Linked DNA regions of Homo sapiens: region 1 is linked to region 2. Evidence: fine-mapped expression QTL. A gene starts in region 2. The other region holds a variant in brackets. All regions are shown on one strand. Distances are from middle to middle.

The links.
Region 1: its variant is fine-mapped to the expression of SEMA6D in fibroblasts (GTEx, PIP above 0.99).

The regions. Positions count from the first base shown.
Region 1 is chr15:47,456,976-47,467,183 of GRCh38, forward strand. It overlaps a transcript of SEMA6D not described here. Among named protein-coding and RNA genes, the nearest start is that of SEMA6D, 260 kb to the right of the region's middle. The variant G/A (reference allele first, on the strand shown) is at 4,855.
Region 2 is chr15:47,712,291-47,722,498 of GRCh38, forward strand. SEMA6D (semaphorin 6D) reads left to right here and starts at 5,215. Exons shown (of 19, transcript NM_001358351.3): 1 at 5,215-5,402. RefSeq lists a silencer at 5,042-5,336.

The DNA.
Region 1 (10,208 bases), 260 kb before region 2:
TCTTGAGAAAGAACCAATAAAGAAGTGGGTGAAACAGTCTCAAGAGATCACATAAGGCTGGTAAGAATTTTCATCCTTCCAGCCAGAGTGGAAAAACTTTGCATTATACAGGGCACTGGCAATATACTTGGAACTGTATTGCCTTAGTAGCAATAAAAAATTATTCCTAAAGACTGCTCTGGTCTTCTATAACAAAGATTATAAGCAAGGCTTGAAAAGCTTACCAAATAATTTATTTGGGTTTCAGAACAAATCTCAAACCTACTTTAAAGAATACAAAAATATCCAGCATTCAAAAATATAAAATTCAAATGTCAAGCATCCAATACAGACTTACTTATACACACAAAGAAGAAAAAATACACGTTTTATTAGGAGAAATAACATCAATCAATATAAGAAGATTCAGAAAAAAAACACAGATGAAAGTATCAGCACACAAGGATATTAAGCAGTATTATAAGTATATTCTATATGTTCAAGAAAGTAAAAGAAAGCATGAGCATGCTAAGCACAGATATGGAGGATAATTAAAAAGACCTAGTTCAAACTTGTAGAGATAAAATATAACTGCCCAAGATTTAAAAATATGTAGGAAGAGACTATCCGAAGATTAGACACTACATAAGAAAAGGTTAGTCAATTTGAAGATATTCCTTTAGAAACTAACCAAATTTCTCACACAGGATACTTTCAAGCAGGCTAATATATTTGTAATTAGAGTACTCAAAAGGTAAGAGACATGGAAAAAATATTTGAGGAAATAATGGGTGAAAATTTACAACTCTGATGAAAAATATAGACCCAAAGATCCAAGAAACTCAATAAATGCCAAGCACAAGCACAGGAAGAAAATTACACCAAAATGTATTGTCATCAAATTGCTGAAAACCAGTGATAAACAGAAAACCTTAAAAGTAGCCAAAAGAAAAAAAAAGTCGCAATGAATACAGACAAAAAGAGAACATAAAAATGGCTGCAGACATTGAAAACAATGCAAGCCAGAAGACAGAGAAGAAACCTCTTAAAGTACTGAAAGAATAAAATTTTCAACCAAGAATTTATACTCAGCAAAATATCTCTCAAAACCAAAATAAAAATACGAAATGTTTCAGACAAACAAGAGCTGAAATCTAGATCTATACAAAGTAATAAATAACACTGAGAATGTTAAAATTGTGAGCATATATAAAAATACTCTTAAAAATCTCTTTAAAATACCATTGGTTATTTAAAGTAGAAATTATACTGATGTATTGGAGGTTTTCACCATATATGCGGTAGTATGAGAATCATAGTTGAATATTTTAACAATTTATTTCAATAAATAGGAAATTTATACTAAATAAGAATATAAAAGACTTAAACAATGTTATCAACTAATTTAACCTAATTGACATTATGGAAGACTTTCTCCAATAACAAAAATACACATTATTTTCAAAGGCCCATGGAACATTTACCAAGATAGACAATATTCTGACCATAAAAGAAGTCTTATTAATTTAAAAAGAATTCAAAATATGCAAAATATATTCCCTAGCCACAATGGAATTAAATTAGGAATTAATAGTAGAAATATATCTGCAAAATACCCATGTATTAGGAAATGAAATAACACACTTCTAATTAACCTGTATGTCAAAGAAGAAATCAAAAGGGAAATCAGAATGTATTTTGAAATGAATTAAAGTAAAAGCATGAAAAATAAAAATGTGTAGGATGCTGTTATCACAGTGATTGGAAAGTGACTGATAGTACTAAACACCTTTTTTTAGGAAAGAAGAATGGTCTCAAATCAATGGCATATGCTTCCATCTAAAAAACCTAAAGGGACAAAAACATCTGAAATCAAAGTAAGCAAAAGAAATAAAGCTATGAGGTCAAAACCAAAAATAAATAAATAAATAAACTATTAATAAAGAATATCAGTATAAATGTTGCAGACAAACACTAAGATAAGCCCCAATGATTTCCACCTCCTAGTATTCATGGCTTTGTGTAATCTTCTACCCTTGAGCGTGAATGGGACCTGTGACTTGCTTCTAACCCATTACCTATGGTAAAGGTAATGAGATGTCATTCTTGTGATTAGGTTTTGTTATATAGCAAAGGTGATAGGATACAGCCCCCATCATTATGTTGCATTATGTGAAACTCTATCTCAGCAGACTGAAGCCAGAGATTCTTCTTGTAGGCTTGATGAATTGAGTGACCATGTTGGAGAAATCCATGTGGCAAGGTGTGTAGACAGCTTCTAGCCACTTCTGGTGGCCTCTAAGACCTCAGAGCAGCCTTCAGACAACAGCCTGTAGAAAGCCAGGCCCCTCATTCAAATTGCTGTCAGGAAATGAATCCTGTCAACTGCCTGAATGATCTGGGCATCAGATTCTTCCCAGTTGAACCTGCAGATGAAAACACAGCCCACCAATACATTGATTACAGCCATGTGACATATTTTGTAGACTGACTTGCAGATGGCTTGATTATTGAATGCAGGATCATCTGAGAGAAAGAGGAGAATCAAGAAAAACCTAGCTTGGTTTTGCACTGGGTGGTGGTGACTTACTAAACAAGACAGACCACGGAGAAACAGATGAAGGGAAGTAACAGTGGAAATCAAAAATTCTGTATTGACTACACTAAATTTGAGGTGTTTACAATATCCATAAGTGGAAATATTTAAAATTAAAAACTTTTATAATAACCTCAAAACAAACAATAGGTTTTCTCCCCTCTTTCCCCTGCAGCTTTGCACTTAAACCAATATTAAATTCTTAAGAATTTCTGGTGGAGAGTCTATTAAATTCTACTTAAAAAGATTTCATCTCTGGGTGATAACAAAGATAACTATCTGGGGAAAAATGTGGAGTAGTGCAGAGTGTTTAAAATATACTGTATTTGGTTCTTCTACTTCAATTTCCTAAATAACACATGAATTTATTAAATAAAATCCATTCTTGAAAATCAATTCCACTAACTCCTCCATTGACCTTTTAAGCTCTTTAGATCCCCGTATTCAAATCCCCAAGTCAGGGAGTTTCAAAATCTTACATACAAACTTAAAAAAAAATGCCTATTTTCTAGGTTTTATTAAGGCATAGCTAGGTGAGGTTAAAGTCATCTAATTAGCCATCCCACCACTGTGTCTCTTCATTTGCAACATTCTGACACTCAGCTATGGCGAGGAATTCTCCTCCTGTGAATTCTCAGAAATTATTTAGAAATTATTTAGAATCTAATTTTTATGCCCAGGGAGCTCAGTAAGAAGGAGTCAGTCTCATTACTGCTTATCAGAAATTACTTTTTGTCTCAAGTCTTCTTTACCCTGAAAAGCCAATTTTGATAAGAAGTGAAGATTTAAGCCAACAAGAAGGGGCAAATCATTGCAAGCAGTGATCAATGAAGTTGGGTTAGCCAGGCTTATTTAGAGTAGTCCGAGAAATCATCTTGCTGATGACCAAATCTTACAAAATGATGAGTACCCGACTCTCAATGTGCTTTGAAAGCACTGAAGGGAAATCATATATCTGCTATGATTAAAAACTACATCATGATGCTGTGTGCTTGAGGACAGTGTATAAGAAGGAAGAAAGACAGCTGGAAATCAGTGATTCATTAGTGTTAGGTGTTAATGTAATTGTGAATGTTTTTCTTTGTCTTCCAACCTTTTGTGCAGATAATATTGTGAAAGGGGAATGAGGAGTATTTAAACATATTGCAAAAATTTCCTAATTTTTATTTAAACTATAATAGAATCATCAAACTGGGTGAACAAACAAATCCCAGTTTTGGTAAATGTTATAGATTTGGTAAACGTTGCTTATAAGTAACTGAGATGTTTCTTACCAATAAGCACTTTAACATAAAACAGCAGATTTAATGACCCGGAAATTAACTCAACTAACTATGCCTTGATCTTGTGAAATTACTGTTGGTATTTGCCCTAAACAGGCATGCTGGGTCCTGTCTGTGGCTCACAAGTCCCCAGATGGTGTGACTCCTGCCTACTTCCTCTTCCTGCTTCCTCCAGCCACTTCCTCTCTCTCACTCTGCCCAGCCCTCCTGACCTTCTTTTTGCTCCTTGAGCAAGCTCATTTCTATGCCAATGCGTTTGTACTTGCTCTTGTCTCAGCCCAGACCACTCTCTGCTTGGTCTTCGCATCACTGCCTTTATTTGATTCTTACTTCAAACATGACTTTCTCAGAGAAGCCTTTGGTGACCACATTGCCTAAAATAATGGCATCCCCACCTGCACCTCATCATCTCATCACACTGTCATTATTCCACATGCAGAAACCTTGCACTCTGAAATTGCCTTTATTCATTAGACTACTTCTTCATTGTCTCCCCACAGCCACTGCCACACACACACTCTTGAATGTATGCTGCATAAATACACAGACCTTGTGCTTTCTCCCCCACTATTATATCTGAAGCACTGGAAACATCACCTAGCATAAAGGAGTCATCTGTAATATTTGTTGGACAAATGATTAAGTTGAATCTAGTAGACCAAGAATCTGAGGTTTGTCCATCAGAGTTAAATTTCATGGTTATTACACATAGCATAGAACAGTATTTCCGTCATTAAAAATAATATTAATAATAATAATGCCCATAGCAATTTTTTAAATTGGTAAAGTGAGGTGTATAGGATGTTCGGGAAAAGCTTCATCTTGGAAATTTAATTGCTTTCTGCTCTTCAATGAGTCATTCTATTTGGAATGGAAAATCTAGTCCTCATATGTTAATTTATTTAAGAGGGATGAGCTAAGAGCAATACAAACCGACAGATAGTCCCAAAGGGATAAATTCATAAGATTAGAACTTGAAGGGCAAATTTGTAAAAT[G/A]TGTGAAGAATGTATATGTTTCTGCTTGTATATTCATATTTATACTGGGATGAAAGAACAATGTTACCTCCCAGTGTGCCCAGGTCCAAGTCAATGCATACCAAGGTTTGATCCTGCCACATGAGTAAGATAGGCCTGGTGTATTACCAGAAAATACTGAATATTTCATAAAGTTACTATTTGGTGATTCTAGATACTGATGTTTTTCTCCTTTTACATCCTGTTAGCGTGATTCATTTCAAATCTTGGTACTACCATGGAGTTTTTCCAGACCACGCCAGTGTGATATACTCTTCCCATTTTTCTGACATCCTGTAGCAATTATTGGTAATTAAATGTGGCCTGCCTTTTGCTATTTTTGTTGTCTTGAACTCTTACTTGGGGTTCTTTTTGTTTTGATTGTTTGGGGCTATTATTTAAAATTTAAGTCATTATGACTCGTTTCACCAACAAGATTTTTAATGCAGGGATGATGCTTTTAACCTTTTGTGCTTTCCACAGGTCCCAGCACAGTGCCTTACATAGCAGGCAAGCACTACATATGTTGCCTCACCAGCAATTCTGGAAGGCAAATGCTTCATGTATCCCAAATGACCCATCTCGGCCTCTCTCTTCTCAGACGGGAACTATATAGGTTTTTTTTTAGGAAACTGAACCTCCTTCCTACAGCCCTTTTGAATATTGATCTGGAGTGATGCTGTTGCTACCCTGGACATAAACGTATTTCTTGTTTCCCTGCCATCAGAGATTAAATCGTTGACTGTAATGAACTAGAGTTAAAACTACTAGGTTCTTCGGATTTTCAGATAGAAACAAAAACACATTAGTTGTGGTGGTTTGTTGTTATTGTTTTTTTCCTGTTTCTGTGAGCCATAGCGAATTGTGATTACTCTGTTCACAATGAATAGATAAAAGGCCTTCTCTTTTTCATTATTAAGGTTAGGCAAGAGTGCAGGTAATTTTATCTCATAAAGATTACTTAATTCACCTTGGGTGAGGGGAGAAGGGCTGAAATAAAGCTAAAACCTGTTCTGCAAGAACCCAGCCTTTATGGCTCTGTTTGTCCTAGTCTGGCTTATAATTCATTAGATCTCTTAGCAAAACAGATGTCATTGAAAGAGGCACATGGACAGAGAGAAAATGCCTGACCATAAAGAGACGTAGCTACAAGACCAATTCAATGATGAACTTGGATATGGAAAGGACTTTTTAAAAAAAATGAAGAAAAGGATCTTCAGTAAGTAAATAAGACTACCTCAGTTTCCTGAAGGAATAGCAGCAATCCATGATAACAGTAACAAAAACAACCAGGATCTAAATCCACCTAGTTTTTCATTTTGGTGCAATATTTTCAATTGCAAGCTGGGTTCCACAGTGAACTCTGCATGAAGCTTGTAATTTTCCCCTAGAAATATTTTTCAAGCCTTCAGCGGCCCTAGAATGTTCAAGCTGGTCCTTCACAGTTATCCACATACATGCACCCTTTTCTTCACAATTCAAAACTTTCTTCTCCATAAATCCTTTGCTGATCATCTCTGCCCATGACAAGTTCTCTTGACTCAATTCGTATAGCCCTGACTGCATATATGTCTCCTTTAAATCTTAACACATGCAGTACATTTGCATTTACAAAGGAAAATAGGCTCAAACGCCAAAGTTTCTCAACCCTTTGCAATGTATTTCCAAAGAAAAGGTGGTGGCAGCTGAAGCACATGTGTGCGTCATGGTAGGCCTAAGAGTTGTAGAGTGTGTTGATAGTATGTCGGGGGAATCCCCGTGGGGCCCAAAGGGAACACACCTTAAAGTTGGACAAACTTAGATCTGAAACATGTCTTTTGTAGTTTACTGTGCGACTGTATTAGTTTCCTGTGGCTGCTGTGACCAGTTGTCAGATAGTTGGTGGTTTAAAACATAACTTTATTCTCTCCCAGTTCTGGAGGCCAGAAGTCTGAAATCAAGGTGTCCACAGAGCTGCACTCCTTCTAAAGGCTTTAGGGAGAACCCATTCCTTGCCTCTTCCAGCTTCTGGTGTCTCCAGTCATACTTTGGCTTGTGGCTGCGTTACTCCAATCTTCACCTCTGTGGTCACCTTGCCACCTCCTCTCCTGTATGTCTTCTCTTTCGTTTATCTGTCCCCCAGACTCCCTCTGCCTCTCTCTCATAAGGATACATACACATGATTGCCTTTAGGGCCCACCTGGATAATGCAGAATGGGCTCATCCCCTTTTTAAATTTACTCATTCACATATTTTGCTATATAAGGTAATATTCACAGGTTTCAGGGGTTATGATCTGGACATATCTTTTGGGGGGCTGCCATTCAACCCATGTAGTGACCTTAAGAAGAGATTTTAACTTTTTTTTAGCTACAATCCCTCATCAGTAAGATAAGGTTAATAAACTTTTATTGTCAGGCAGTTAGGAGGAATAAAGTAAAATATATTTTCCATGTTAAGTATGTGTTGCAGGATCATGTAGGGTAAAAAGTCTTTCTCTGGATGCTATTGTAATAAATTCAGCCCCTGCAGCACCCCCACCATAGAGGTGTCTCATATGTGCTCGTTAAGAAAAGGCACCCATCCTGCTTCAGGTGCCTTTGGTGATACCCATTGTCTCTGCCTCATGCCGAACCACTGCCACCAGTGTCCAGTCCATGCCAAGGACTCCTGATGCTCCCAGATCAGCCAACAGTGTATTCCACATCTGGGCCTGGCTTTTGCTCTTATAAGATGGTTGGTTTGAGGAGGTGCCAGTATGCAGGCATGGTAGCTAATTCCCTGCCACCACTGTGGTGTGACTGATTTAGTCAAGCCCTCAAGGAGCTAAAATTTTATTGAATTATTTATAGTCCTCCATGTGCACAAACCACCCTGCACCCTTGTCAAAATGGAAAGACTCTCTCTCTCTAACCTTTTAATTTAAATACCTCTTAATGGATGAGTACCATATGTTAATATATGAGTCCATACAAAGTTAGGTCAGAACACAAATCAAAGTGACAGTCCCATGGATTGCTCCACCCCACTGATAAAAGGCACTGTCATGGACCAAGTGGGGGTTTGCCTGAATTTACTCTATTAAGAGACTCTTAAGTTTCTTCTGCAAATAATCAGGTAATTTCACAAGTTTGCCATATATGTATGAATCCCAGTGATAAATTAAAGTGAGCCTCAAGCTAGAATACTCTGTTTCTCTCCTGTTACACCTCCTGGCCCTCCCTGACTCCCCTCACCACTCACAGATACACAACAACTAAATGTGCCTTGCACAGCACCTAGAACATAGTAGGTACTCGATAAACACAAGATCGTCTTCTGTCTTGTACTCACAGTGCTTTGAACACAGCAGGTAGTCAGTAGATGCATTTTGACCAATGTGTATCTGGATTTGTAATGTGTAAGAAATATTGAAACATTCCTCATAAAATTTCAATCATTTCTATTTGGCCTCTAACTCTAACCTCTTTCACTATTAATTGGTTCTTAATAATAAGCCCCTAAATATAGATGTTTGTACAAGAAGAAGTGGGCAAATAGTTGTCCGCATCCCAGTTAAAATTCTTATTGCCTAGACTTAGCTTTGCAACATTGCTAGGTGGCTAAATTATTGCATAACTTATAAAGGGGAAAGGTTTCTGACTTTATGTTCTAAACGCAGTTGATATGGTTTGGATTTGTGTCCCCACCCAAATCTCAAGTCCAATTGTAATCCCCCGTGTTGGAGGAGGGGCCTGGTGGGAAGGGATTGGATTGTGGGGGCGGACTTTTTCCTTGCTGGTGTCATGATAGTGAGTTTTCATGAGATCTGGTTGTTTACAAGTGCATAGCACCTCCTCCTTCTCTCTCTTCCTCCTTCTCCTGCCATGTAAGATGTGCCTCCTTTCTCTTTGCCTTCTACCATGATTGTAAGCTTCCTAAGGCCTCCCCAGCCATGCTTCCTGTATAGACTGCAGACCTGAGTCAGTTAAACCTCTTTTCATTCTAAATTACCCAGTCTCATGTAGTTCTTTATAGCAATGCGAAAATGGACTAATTCACCAGTAAAGGGTCTTGCCAATTCTGCAATAATATTACCTATTGGTTTCCTCCAGGGAACTTGACATGCTTTTCTGATATCAAAATGTTCATATTTGTAACTTTTCATAGAAAAGATAAAGAAAATAATGTGTTTTTATTTTCTCCCAGCTTTATAGGTGGTATAATTGACAAATAAAAATTGTATGTATTCAAGGTATGCAAAATGATTTGATGTACATATATATTGTGAAATAATTACAATCAAGCAAATTAAGATGTTCATCACCTCACATAGTTACCATTTTTTTCTGTGTGTGGTAAGCACACTTCAGATGTACTGTATATGCAAATGACAAGGATGCAATACATTATTATTAACTGTAGTTTCCATGTTGTATATTGGATGTTCAGAACTTAGTTCATTTTATAACTGAAATTTTGTACCCTTTGACAAAAATCCCTCCATTACTCCCACCCTCTAGCCTGTAGCACCCACTTTTCTACTCTGTTTCCATAGGTTAGGCTTCTTTAGTTTCTACCTATAGGTGAGATCATGCAGTATTTGTCTTTCTGTGTTTGGCTTGTTTCACTTAGCATAATGTCCTCAAAGTTCATTCATGTTGACACAAATGGCTAATTTTCCTTTTGTTAAGGGCTGAGTAATATATTCCATTGTAAATATTTATCAAATTTTCTTTATCCAGTCATCTCCTGGTGAACACTTATGTTGTTTTCATATCTTGGCTATTGTGAATAATGCTACAAGAATGTGGGAGTGCACATATCTCTTTAATGTATCATTAATAATTTCATTTCCTTTGAATATATACCGAGAAGTGGAATTGCTAGACTGTATGGCAGTTCTGTTTTTAGGTGTGTGGTTTTTTTTTTTTTTGGAAATGGAGTCTTGCTCTGTCTTCCAGGCTCACCAGCTTAGAGGAGTGATCTCGGCTCACTGCAACCTCCACCTCCCAGGTTCAAGTGATTCTCCTGCCTCAGCCTCCCTAGTAGCTGGGATTATAGGAGTGTAGCACCACGCCTGGCTTTTTTTTTTTTTTTTGTAGCAGAAGTGAGGTTTCACCATGTTGGCCAGGCTGATCTCAAACTCCTGACCTCAAATGATCTACCGACCTTGGCCTGCCAAAGTGCTGGGATTACAGGCATGAGCTACTGCACCCAGCCTATTTTTAGTTTTTTTGAGGTACCTTGACACCTTTTTCATAATGGTTGTACCAATTTAAAATTCCACTAACAGTATATAAGGGTTCCCTTTTCTTCACAAGGATAATAATTTTTGTTCTTGTTTAGAAATGAGAACATGAAGACCTGGAAAACTG
Region 2 (10,208 bases):
GTTTTTAAAACTTGTGCTTATATCATTTTTCATAGAATGGTATACTAGAAAAAAAATAAGGATTGAGGGGCAAACAAACCGGGATTAGAATCTAGGCTACCACCTACTAGGACAGAAAACCCTAATAAGATAGTTATTTTAACCAAGCCTAGGTTTCTTTGTTCATAAAATGATGTCTGTCTCAAAGAGCTGTGGTGAGAATTAATACTATTGTATCTGGCCAGGATCTGGGATGAAACAGGTATCCAGTCAGTTCCTTCTCCCTTTGTCAGTTTGAATTTTGAGGTTGGCAGAAGCAAATAATAATAATATTAGGTGGGGAGGTTTGTTTTTAAAAACCAAGTTTTAAGTATATATTTTTAGAAGTAAATAAACTTTTAATTTCTACCACTTTTAATTAGTTTCATTATCTTTCTCCTTGGTTAAGACAGTCTAACATTTAATAGGTATTATTCAGCTCCAATTCTTCAAGGTCAGAGGCTTGGTTACTGTAAATTTGTAGAGAGAAGTCTGTCAGGAATTTGGAGTCTCAGCTTTCTTTTTGTTGGGATATAAGCTGGCATTCCAGTATCCTAAGTATTCCTTTTCAAAGTACAGATAAGCACAATTTAGTGACTGACTGAGTTGCCAGCTTTTTGTATGACCCACCCTTCAAAAAGTTCGTTTTGCTTCTGTTTGTTCAAATATCTTTGATAAAATGATAGTCTTCATATCTCTTGTCTGTTTGCAAAAGAGCTAGTGTTATTAAAGGCTGTTTGCTGTTCATCTTTCTTATGGAAAAACAATATTTTTTTAAAGCCTTATTCTTATTTCGCTTGGGCACTCAGTGTCCTTCCACACAGTGACACCTACAGAGTCATTAGCAAAATTAGATAAGTAACTGATTTATTAGTTCCATAAATGCATGGTGTATTCCCTTTCCTCAGAGTGTAGAGCAAAAATTATTCATGCTGAGGTAGAATAATCAAAATGACTTTAAAAAGCACATTTTTATCATTCTAAACATAAGCACTGCTGTGGTGGTATACTATCATACTACATAATAATAGAAATGAATTATGTCAGTAAAATCTTGAGGCTTAAGATTTACTGTGATAAATATTTTTCATTAAAGTGAAATATCTTGGCAGAGTCACTTTCATATGCAGACTGTTGACACAAGGAGGCCAGCTGTGCCTATGCAGATGCCGAGATTTGGGTCTATATTATTAATGATTTATCATGTCATGGAGAGCTTAGATTAGTTTTGAAAGCAATCCCTTGCCACAAAAGCACTTTCTATAATGTGCGAACGCAAGGAATACTATATGTGCATTCCAAATCAAAGTAATCACAGAAGCTGCAGCAACCTTTGAAATTTCAATACCTCTTTTTATTTTGAAACATGAAATTCTACGTCCTAAATTTTATTATTCATTAAAATTCATACAAAATGTTATTTCATATCAACTGGATAGTGAGTGGTGTGTGTATCAGAATTAATAGACATATACACATAGATAAGAAAATGAAGGAGATGGAATGGAACAAACATTTATTGCAAACCTATTGTGTAGCATGGACTTTTGCCCTTAATCTCACATTTAATGTGAGGTTGGATTAAGTTTCAAATTCAATTCTGCAGGATTCCCAGATTCTGCTGCCTTTGGAGAATCTATAAAAGCATTGTTTAATATTTATTCAGTGCTTGCTTTGTTCCAGGTCAGATGCTAAACACTTTACATGCATTACCACATTCTGTTTTTATAAAATCAATTTGAATATTATTATCATCATCCCTGTTTTCCAGATGAGAAGACTGAAGCATGTGTGGCTAAATAAATTATCCCAAGTCACAAGTCTAGTGAGAGGAGGAGCCTGGGTTTCAATCCAGACTAATATTCCAAAGACTTCATTATCATCTATTGCTATTAACTATGACCTCACTATTATTAACTACTATTACAACTAAGTAAGGGGTAGAATTCAACTCCTACTTGCTTACTACTCTGTGACATTAGGCAATTCACTTAAACTCTCTAAGCTTCAGTTTTCTCATCTATAAAAATGATAATAATAATAATAGTACTTACCTTGTAGCATTGTTGCAAGTTAATATTTGTAAAATGCTTAGAACAGAGTTTGGGTGCATATTAAGTACTGATGTTTTGTTTAATAACAGTTAAGAAGTTGTACTTTCTGATGACTGATGAACTTTTATTAACAATTACACACACAGATTTTCTGTAATTTTCAGATGACCGTTATGCTTCAAACTGGACTGTAAACAAAATGACTACTTTCCACTGATGGGAAATGTATGTAGATAATGTTTAAGCATAATCACTAACCATGTAAAGCATTGAGCCCTTTACAATTTCTTCTGGTGAAAACACTCAATTATCTCCATTCATCCATACCTTCCTTCTTTTACTCATTTAACAAACATTCTCATGCCAGTACTTTGCTGAGTCCTGGGGACGCAGGATGAATAAATGGAGAAGGATCCAATCTAGAGCTGACTGTATTCTCTGGTTTAGCACATAAGGGAGTGTGAGAAAGTCGTAGGTTCCATTGTTAGATCTGTTTAACAAGTATTTATTGGGCGTCCATTAAATGCCAGGCACTGTGGTGGGCACTGGGACTGTCTAGGTAAATAGAGATTGCTGCTGTTAAGGAGTGTCGAGTGGGGAAGACATGCTAAATCGGTAATTTGCCTTCAATTTACTTAATTACGTAAGTGAACTGGTTAGGGGAGCACAGAAGAAAAGCACTTATGCCCATGGTAGGGGCTAGTGGGATGAGGCAAGTTTTGACATTTAAACAAATTGTTGGCTAGAAGTCAGGAAAAGCAGAAATTAAACTACATACCAATATGGGGATGGAGTACCCAGAAAGCAGAGACACCATGAAACAGTGTGGCACAGTGGTGAACCGCAAGTTTCTGGGTAATGCTAGCATCTAAAGCATAAGGTAGGGAGAGGGGGGAGTTAGACTGGAGAAGTAGCAAAGTTAAAAGGTTAAAAGTGTGTAAAATCAACTGATGAGACCAAATGCTAATAAACCACAACAATGGTAGCTGCATAAAGAGTTAGCAGTTTTCCTTAGACTTCTTTCCACTAAAATCCAAATAAAAGGAGCGTTGTTTTCCTATCAAGATTCTTGGAACCAGGGAAATGATAAATGCTTAAAAGTAATATTTTGGTCTTGACCAAAAGGTAAAGGATACCATTCGTACCATGCCACAGTGAAGAGCCTACTTCCTACCTCTCATCCCCAGCAAGCCAAATATAGGGATCGACTCCGAAGTCTTCACTGATAATGTAGACTGAAAACACGGCTAATCCATGGCTTGAAACGACCTACCAGCATATCCTTCTGCAATCTAAAAGTTTATTTTTTCCTGGATTTAGGAACTCAGTCTAGGGCAAATTGCACTCTTCAGGTGGCACTCTGGAAAGCTGACGATTGTGGAATTTTAGCAAGGAATTTAGGAATCTCCAGAATTTAATTTTTTTTCCCTCTTTGCTGCTACTGCAGATGCAGGACAACTCAAGAGCTTTCTGTCTCCAGGTGGGTGGCGATTTGACTCCTCATCAAGCCAATGGCCACCCCCTTGCAATCTTTATGCAATGCACAGTATCCTCTGCCTGCAACGGGGGCTTGCTCCCTTGATGGAGAAAATACAGAATAACTGGACGCCAGGAAACAGGCACAGCTTTCTGGGTCAGAAGTTGGCTGGGGAAGGGCCCTGACTGCCAAGTAACTTGCAATGATGTCAGAGCCCAGCACAACCAGAAAACACCAACTAGCCGGCCAACAAAAGACCTAATAACAACAGGAAAAAAATCACAGAGCTGTGTTGCCAAAGCTGTTCTTTCCGCCCCCTACTCTTTTCTTCTAATTGGAAGAACAGCAGGAAAGAGTCTATATTTTAAAAGACTCCTCATCCTTCTCTCCCCTTCTTTCCTTGGGTTACACAGTGTTAACTAGGGAGGAAATAGTTCTCCGGATGAGTCCTGCAGCAGTTGCTTGGGGTGTCTTTTTTGAGTTCCTTTTCAAGGCTGTCCTTGGAAGTTTCAGAAACAACGAGGACCAGGGTATTTTTCCTAAATGTAAACATGTAACTGTGTTTGGGAGAAAGCAGGAACCATTGAGGAAAGGAAGTCCTTTCTGCGCCCCTCTCTTCTCTCTTTCACGGTAATTAACCATACTCAAATGAAAATTAAGTTTGGCGGAAAAAGCTCTCTTCTTTTTCTTTAAACAGGGGCATCATGGTTCATTCTAGCCATTTAGAGCCCTCAGTGATCCATAATTCAACTGGAAATTAATAAAACACAGCCCGTTCTTGGAAATGAAGTTTGAATTAAAATCCTCTTGTTTTGGAATATGTGACTTTTTTTTTCCTTTCATTTGTGACAGTCAATTTTAAATGATGTCACTTCAAGGACATTTTCATTTCTCCCACAACATATTACATGAAACACTTGCCTGTAAAACCGGGTCATTAGCCTGCAAAATTATACTGTACAGAATGGCTTTCATTCAAAGTAGAAATGGGATTTTTAGTAGGCAATTTCTGTATTTTATAAAGATAAAGCAATGTTTGATTGCTTTCTTCCCAGCTGTTTTGCTTAGTGGTTATAAAGAGAAATGGGGGGCGGGGGGGTAATGTGGGGGCGGGTTTGTAAAGATGTGCTTAAAAAATAAATCTTACACTGGAAAACTAAGGCAGAACTTCACGGAACAACTGCGCCCGCAGCTCTCCTGGGCTGCAGTGATTTGTCCTCTGGGTTCTGGAGGAAAGCTCTGAAAGAAGTGAGCGAGAGGGAAAGAGGGAGGGAATCGAAAAGGTTGCTTCGCAGGCTGCAGCACCCACTGCGAGCTGGATGACTGAGGCACTGGGAGTTGCTAGAAGGAGCAGCTACTCAGAGGTGGGGAGAGGGAGGGTGCGCAGCAGAGCGCCGGAGAGGAGGGACGCGGAGGCCACCGAGGGGTCAGCAGGGCCGCGGCGCCAGGGTGGGGGCCTCCAGGCGGCGCTGGCCACGGTTCACCCGCGAGGGCGAGCGCGCCCGGCCGGCCGCGCCTCCTGCCGTCCGTGCCCGGGGGTGGGACCCGCGCCGGGAGCTGCCGAGTGCGTGGAGGGAGCCAGGCTCCGGCTCGCCTGATGGATTGACTTGGAGATGGATCGAATTACACCATTTGCCGTGCATCGGTTTGTTTTGCTCCTGCTCTGTCCCGCTGCTGCTGCTGCTGCTGCAAGGGGTGGTGGCGAGTTTCAGGATTCTATCAAGGAAGCCAAGACCTAAGGAGACAGAGGGATATCTATTTTTACAATATTTTTCTTTATTTTCTTTCTTCCTTGCGCGTGGCAAGCTTTTTTTTTTCTTTTTCTTTTTTCTTACCAGCCTCCCCCCAATGAGGTAAGACCGTTTTCAACAATTTGCTAATGCTCTTGTGGCGCCCGGTGGGGGTCGGAACCTGAGATCCCGAATCGCTGTGTGTGTGTGTGTGTGTGTGTGTGTGCGCGCGGTGGGGGTCGGAACCTGAGATCCCGAATCGCTGTGTGTGTGTGTGTGTGTGTGTGTGTGTGTGTGTGTGTGTGTGTGTTGCCACTGGACAGTTGATTTATTTTCCAAGCTGCTCTCTCTGCCTGCCGTGCAAGGGACGCGCAAAGGGCTAGAGAGGTTTGGCGGACGCGTCAAAACTGGCAAAGCTGGCGGCTTAGGGGGAGGGGCAAGTGGACTTGGAGGCCCTCCTCCACTGTGCACCCCCTTGGAAAAAAAGCGGAGGGGGCATCAAGTAAAAGTTTCTTGCCAGGCAGAGCCAGCTCGGCGTCCCCCGCACATAGCTGGGGTTAGCAGGGGTTGCTTCTCTGCCGGGCACAGCGTCTCCAGGAGCCAGCCGGGGAGAGCTGAGCCAAGGCCGAAGGAGCCGCCTGCGGGCTTAGCCGCCCCCTCCCGCCCGTTGGCCCCAGAGCGGACGCTGGGACGCCCGGGGTCTGGCAGCTCTGCGCCCGGCTAGGAGCGGGCGGGCGAGCATTAGCCTGCGTCCTGGAGAAGGGGCGCAGCGCCGCAGTTGAGGCCGGAGCAGCCCCTCGCGGGCGTAGGATACCTGTCAGTGAGCGCCCGGATTGCACGGCCCCCGGGTAGTGCCTGCCGGCGAGGGGCGGGAGCTCGGGTGACTTGGCCATCCCCATCCCCGGCCCAGGCCCGGAGGGCGGCCGCTTCCCACCGTCCCTCTCCCCTTACTGGCAGAGCGCGCTGCGGGCGGACTCCCGGGCCCGGAGCAGCCCACCGGCCACCCCACCGCCCACCCGGCTCCCGGTGTCTCCTCCCGGCCGCTCTACCCAGCAACTTTCCGTGCTTTGTTCCCCGACTGGAAATGCTTTACGGAAGCGTCTTGGACAGGGTCTCCGCCAGGCGACAAGAGCTCGGTGCTGAGATGTGTTACGTTCTCATCTCCCCATCAATTATGGATGGAAACAAATAAGGAAGAGTCAATTTTGCTGAGCCCCTTCTCCGGCAACGAGAGGCGTTCTGCAGCCGGGAGGGAGCCGCCGCTCGCGCCGGCAGCCGCTGGCAGGGGCATGGTGAGGAGGAAGGTAGGGAAACTTTTATTTCCCGTCTTGACAGCGGCGGTGTTTGTCCCTGGTCTGCAGAAACTGATACAGTAGCCTCCTTCCTTGGGTAATTTAGGAGGGCTTGAAGCTTCTTCTGTCATGTGTAATTCTTGGATTGAAATGAAAGGTCATAAAGGACTTGGAAGTGTGCACGAGAATTGGGTTTGAAAAATTTGTGCTCCATCCACTCTTGGGACCATTGCTGTCAGGTGATTGTTTAAATCCTGAACTTGTTAAAAGGCGAAATGTCAGGGAGCTGGCGGGGGTGGGGGTGTGGAGGGGGATTGAAGTCCCGGTATGAATCGCAGCGTTTGAGGAACTTAGGGCAGTACTCCCTGTTCTGGGGTGACCATTCGGTAACTGATGTTCCAGCATCCCGAGCCCTCAGCGCCGTCAGCTGGATGATCTCACAGGGAAGGCGCAGCACATCGTTACTATAGATATATAGACTTCGTCAACAGTCATTGGACCTTATGTCTGCCACTACAGCGGGGGCTTTCCTTTAAAAATAACTGTAGTGTTTCCTGTTACTTGGGGTGAAAGGGCAATGAGTAGGACGATTTTTCCCCAAAACTTCTGGCGGTAAGAATTTTAAGTCTGTAATAAAAATTATGGGTGCTTTTTAAGGTTGCCCTTCCCCCTACTTGATATTTGGGGCCATTAAGTGGATTATTTTGTTTATTCCAAAGCTGAAGTCCCTGGGAAAGGTCTAACATTTTTCTAAACTGGTTTGATCTCTGTCCCTTAGAATAGGAAAAATACTTGTTTGAAGAAAATTTTCAAGGTTTCTTCCTTGTAGTATAAAGAAATCTCATCTCAGACCGCTCAAGGGAAGGATTTTACTCTCCTTTGGTGGCTTAAAAACAGTAGCTTTTGATACTGGTTTACTCTTGCTGTTAAAAAATAAATCCCCTTACTCTCTTAGGTGTCTAACTCAGGAAATTAAGTTGTGTGTAGTCATGTTTAATGTAGTGAGTGACAGGCATATTCTTTCAAGCTGGCAGATATTACACAAACATTTACTCTGGCTTAGATAAATAGAAAATGCCAGATAAGCTCTGAGATTTGGGTCTATATTACCATGAACCTAAACATCTAGAGATAAATAAACCATAGTTCAGCCATAGCTGAGTTTTGTTTTTTATAGTTACTGTCTGTGCTTTGTTTGGTTTAGGTCTCTTAGAATGTACTTCCAGAAAGACAGTTAAATAGATAACCCTAAGGCTTCCAAAATGTGTTGTTGAGCAGACTGTTTTCTTTCATTGGCACATTTTGTTAGATTAACAACTAGCAACTATTTCTTACTGCATCCTACAGAATATTCCTACCTGGCCTTATTCCTCGTAGGGATGCTATATCAATAACCTTTCTTTTTTTTTTTTTTTTTTTTTTTGGAACATTTCTGTGACTCAGGAGAGTATGCCAGAAATGTTGTGACTTCTTCATCACCAACAGCTGGTTAACTTGAGTTTGATTTAGATTTGTGGGCATTTTGCCGTCTTCCTCTTCTTTCTCTCTTTTTTTCTTTTGGTGCCCTCTAATAGCACCATCTGGTCATGTCTCCCCTGGTTTGATGGGTTGATGGATTTGAAAGATGGCTGTGATGTAAATCCGTTAGTCCTTAGAGTGAGGACAACTTAGAAATCCAGAAGACTTCAGTTCCTTGCTGCATGCACAGAAAGGCTCTGTCCAGTAACTGTGACTGGGGTAAGCAGGCCCCTACATCAATGTCGTGGTTTCTGTCGCTTGAAAGGCCACAAGCAAGTAAACAGGAATCAGAGCCTTGATTCACAAAGATGGCCATAATTGCTAAAGACTTATTGAAACTGGAGAAGTTCTTCACTTCTTGCTGCTCCATCATAATAAACCTTGGTAATTAGCTTAGTCATTGTTCTTGCATGTGAGTTTCACTAAGATACAAAGAGTGAAAAATGCATCTGAAATAGGGTCATTTTTCACCCTTTTGATGCATTTTATGCAGAGTTAAGAGCCTGGCTGAATGCCTAACCATTAGTAGTGTAACCGTAGGAGGTGAACTCTTTCCTTGTTATATTGCGTGATAAAATATTGTCTTTTATTTTAATTGATAGACTTTAAGCCTGCATATTCTAGATGCCTTTCTAGAGGAAGCAAGAAGCAGTTGGGGTATGCCAACTAGGCAGTATTTACTGAATATTTATCATTTGCAAGGAGCTGTGCTAGCCAGTGTTCCAACACCAGGTGAGCCAGATATGTTTCTCTGTATTTTCAATAGAGCAAAAATAGAAGGAAATAAAGGATGGGAAAACAGACCTTTTGACAAGAAATGTAGATATGCTTCTTTCTTTAGAAGTGTATTATTTTATTCTAGAGATTTTAAAGCAAGATTATCCATACCAGATATTTGCAGTGGTGCAGCCTACCTGCCTTTAACACTAGTGAATGATTCAATGTACTGTTAAGTGTAATTCACGCATTGAATCTGTCCTTAGAGTGAGAGATCTCACTTTCTGTGGCTCATGTGAATGGAGACTTAGTGTTAATATCTACCAAAGCTAGTGTCTTGGGTTGCCGCTGATTTTGTGAACAGCTGCCAACTTCCAATTGGGGAAAAAAAAAGTGTTCTGATTTATTCCCATGACACACGGAGAGAATAAAAATCACATAACTATTTTAAACATACCATAACACTTTCTAGTTGAGGTGGCTATTGTCAGGTGGAGTTTTCCTCCTCACACCTGACAACACTGGCAGTGCCACTGATAATTGAAGCTGCTTGCATTTCTCCCAACAGGAAAACTACTAGACGTTCTTACTTTGAAAAACAACCATTTATGTAACCAAGGGCGATCAAATCAGTGGTCCACACAGATACCACATGAGGTGTACTTATTTCTCAAACTTTCCTTTTCTATTAAGCTTTTGTTAACTCACCCAGATTAGCATTTTAACAACCCTGAAGTGAACTTCTGCCATTCTCTCTGCTTGGACACAGTATGTAGATCATCCATCATCCTGTCCTTGGCTACAACAGGCTGCTGGCTCTATCACCATTTGGAGCTACATGGAATCCATCCGGCTGTGAACAGCACAGCTGGCTACAGCAATTTTTTCTTCTATACCACTGGCAGTATTGTCTGCCTGTGGTAACTAAAGTTAACACCCAGAACGGGAAGTTTCCATTGTTTGGCAACCTGTCCCAGGCCCCTCATCCAGTTCTGGGGTCACAGCTACTGAAAGTCCTTGCCACCTTGCAATGGTGTGTTCCATTTAAAAGGAGGCTTGCCCCAACCTTATACCACCACAGGAAAGATTCTTGAGGCCTGTAAGATCAAACCACCAGAATCACAGAATTAGAAGGAGCCATTCAGCCACCACTCATCTTACACCTTCAGAACTTGAGTCTACTTGAAAAGGGGAAGAAAGGAATGAAGTAGCCTTCAGCCTGTGATCCCAAATGACTGAAGATAGAAAAAAGACCTTTTTTGGTGAACTGAGCAAGTTATTGCTACATCCCTTTTCACAAAGAACACGCGATGTACCTAAATATGGGGCCCGTGTGTACTAGTGCCGAAACTTTCTGTCGCTTTTTTTTTGTTTTGTTTTCTTCTTTTTACTCAATAAGATA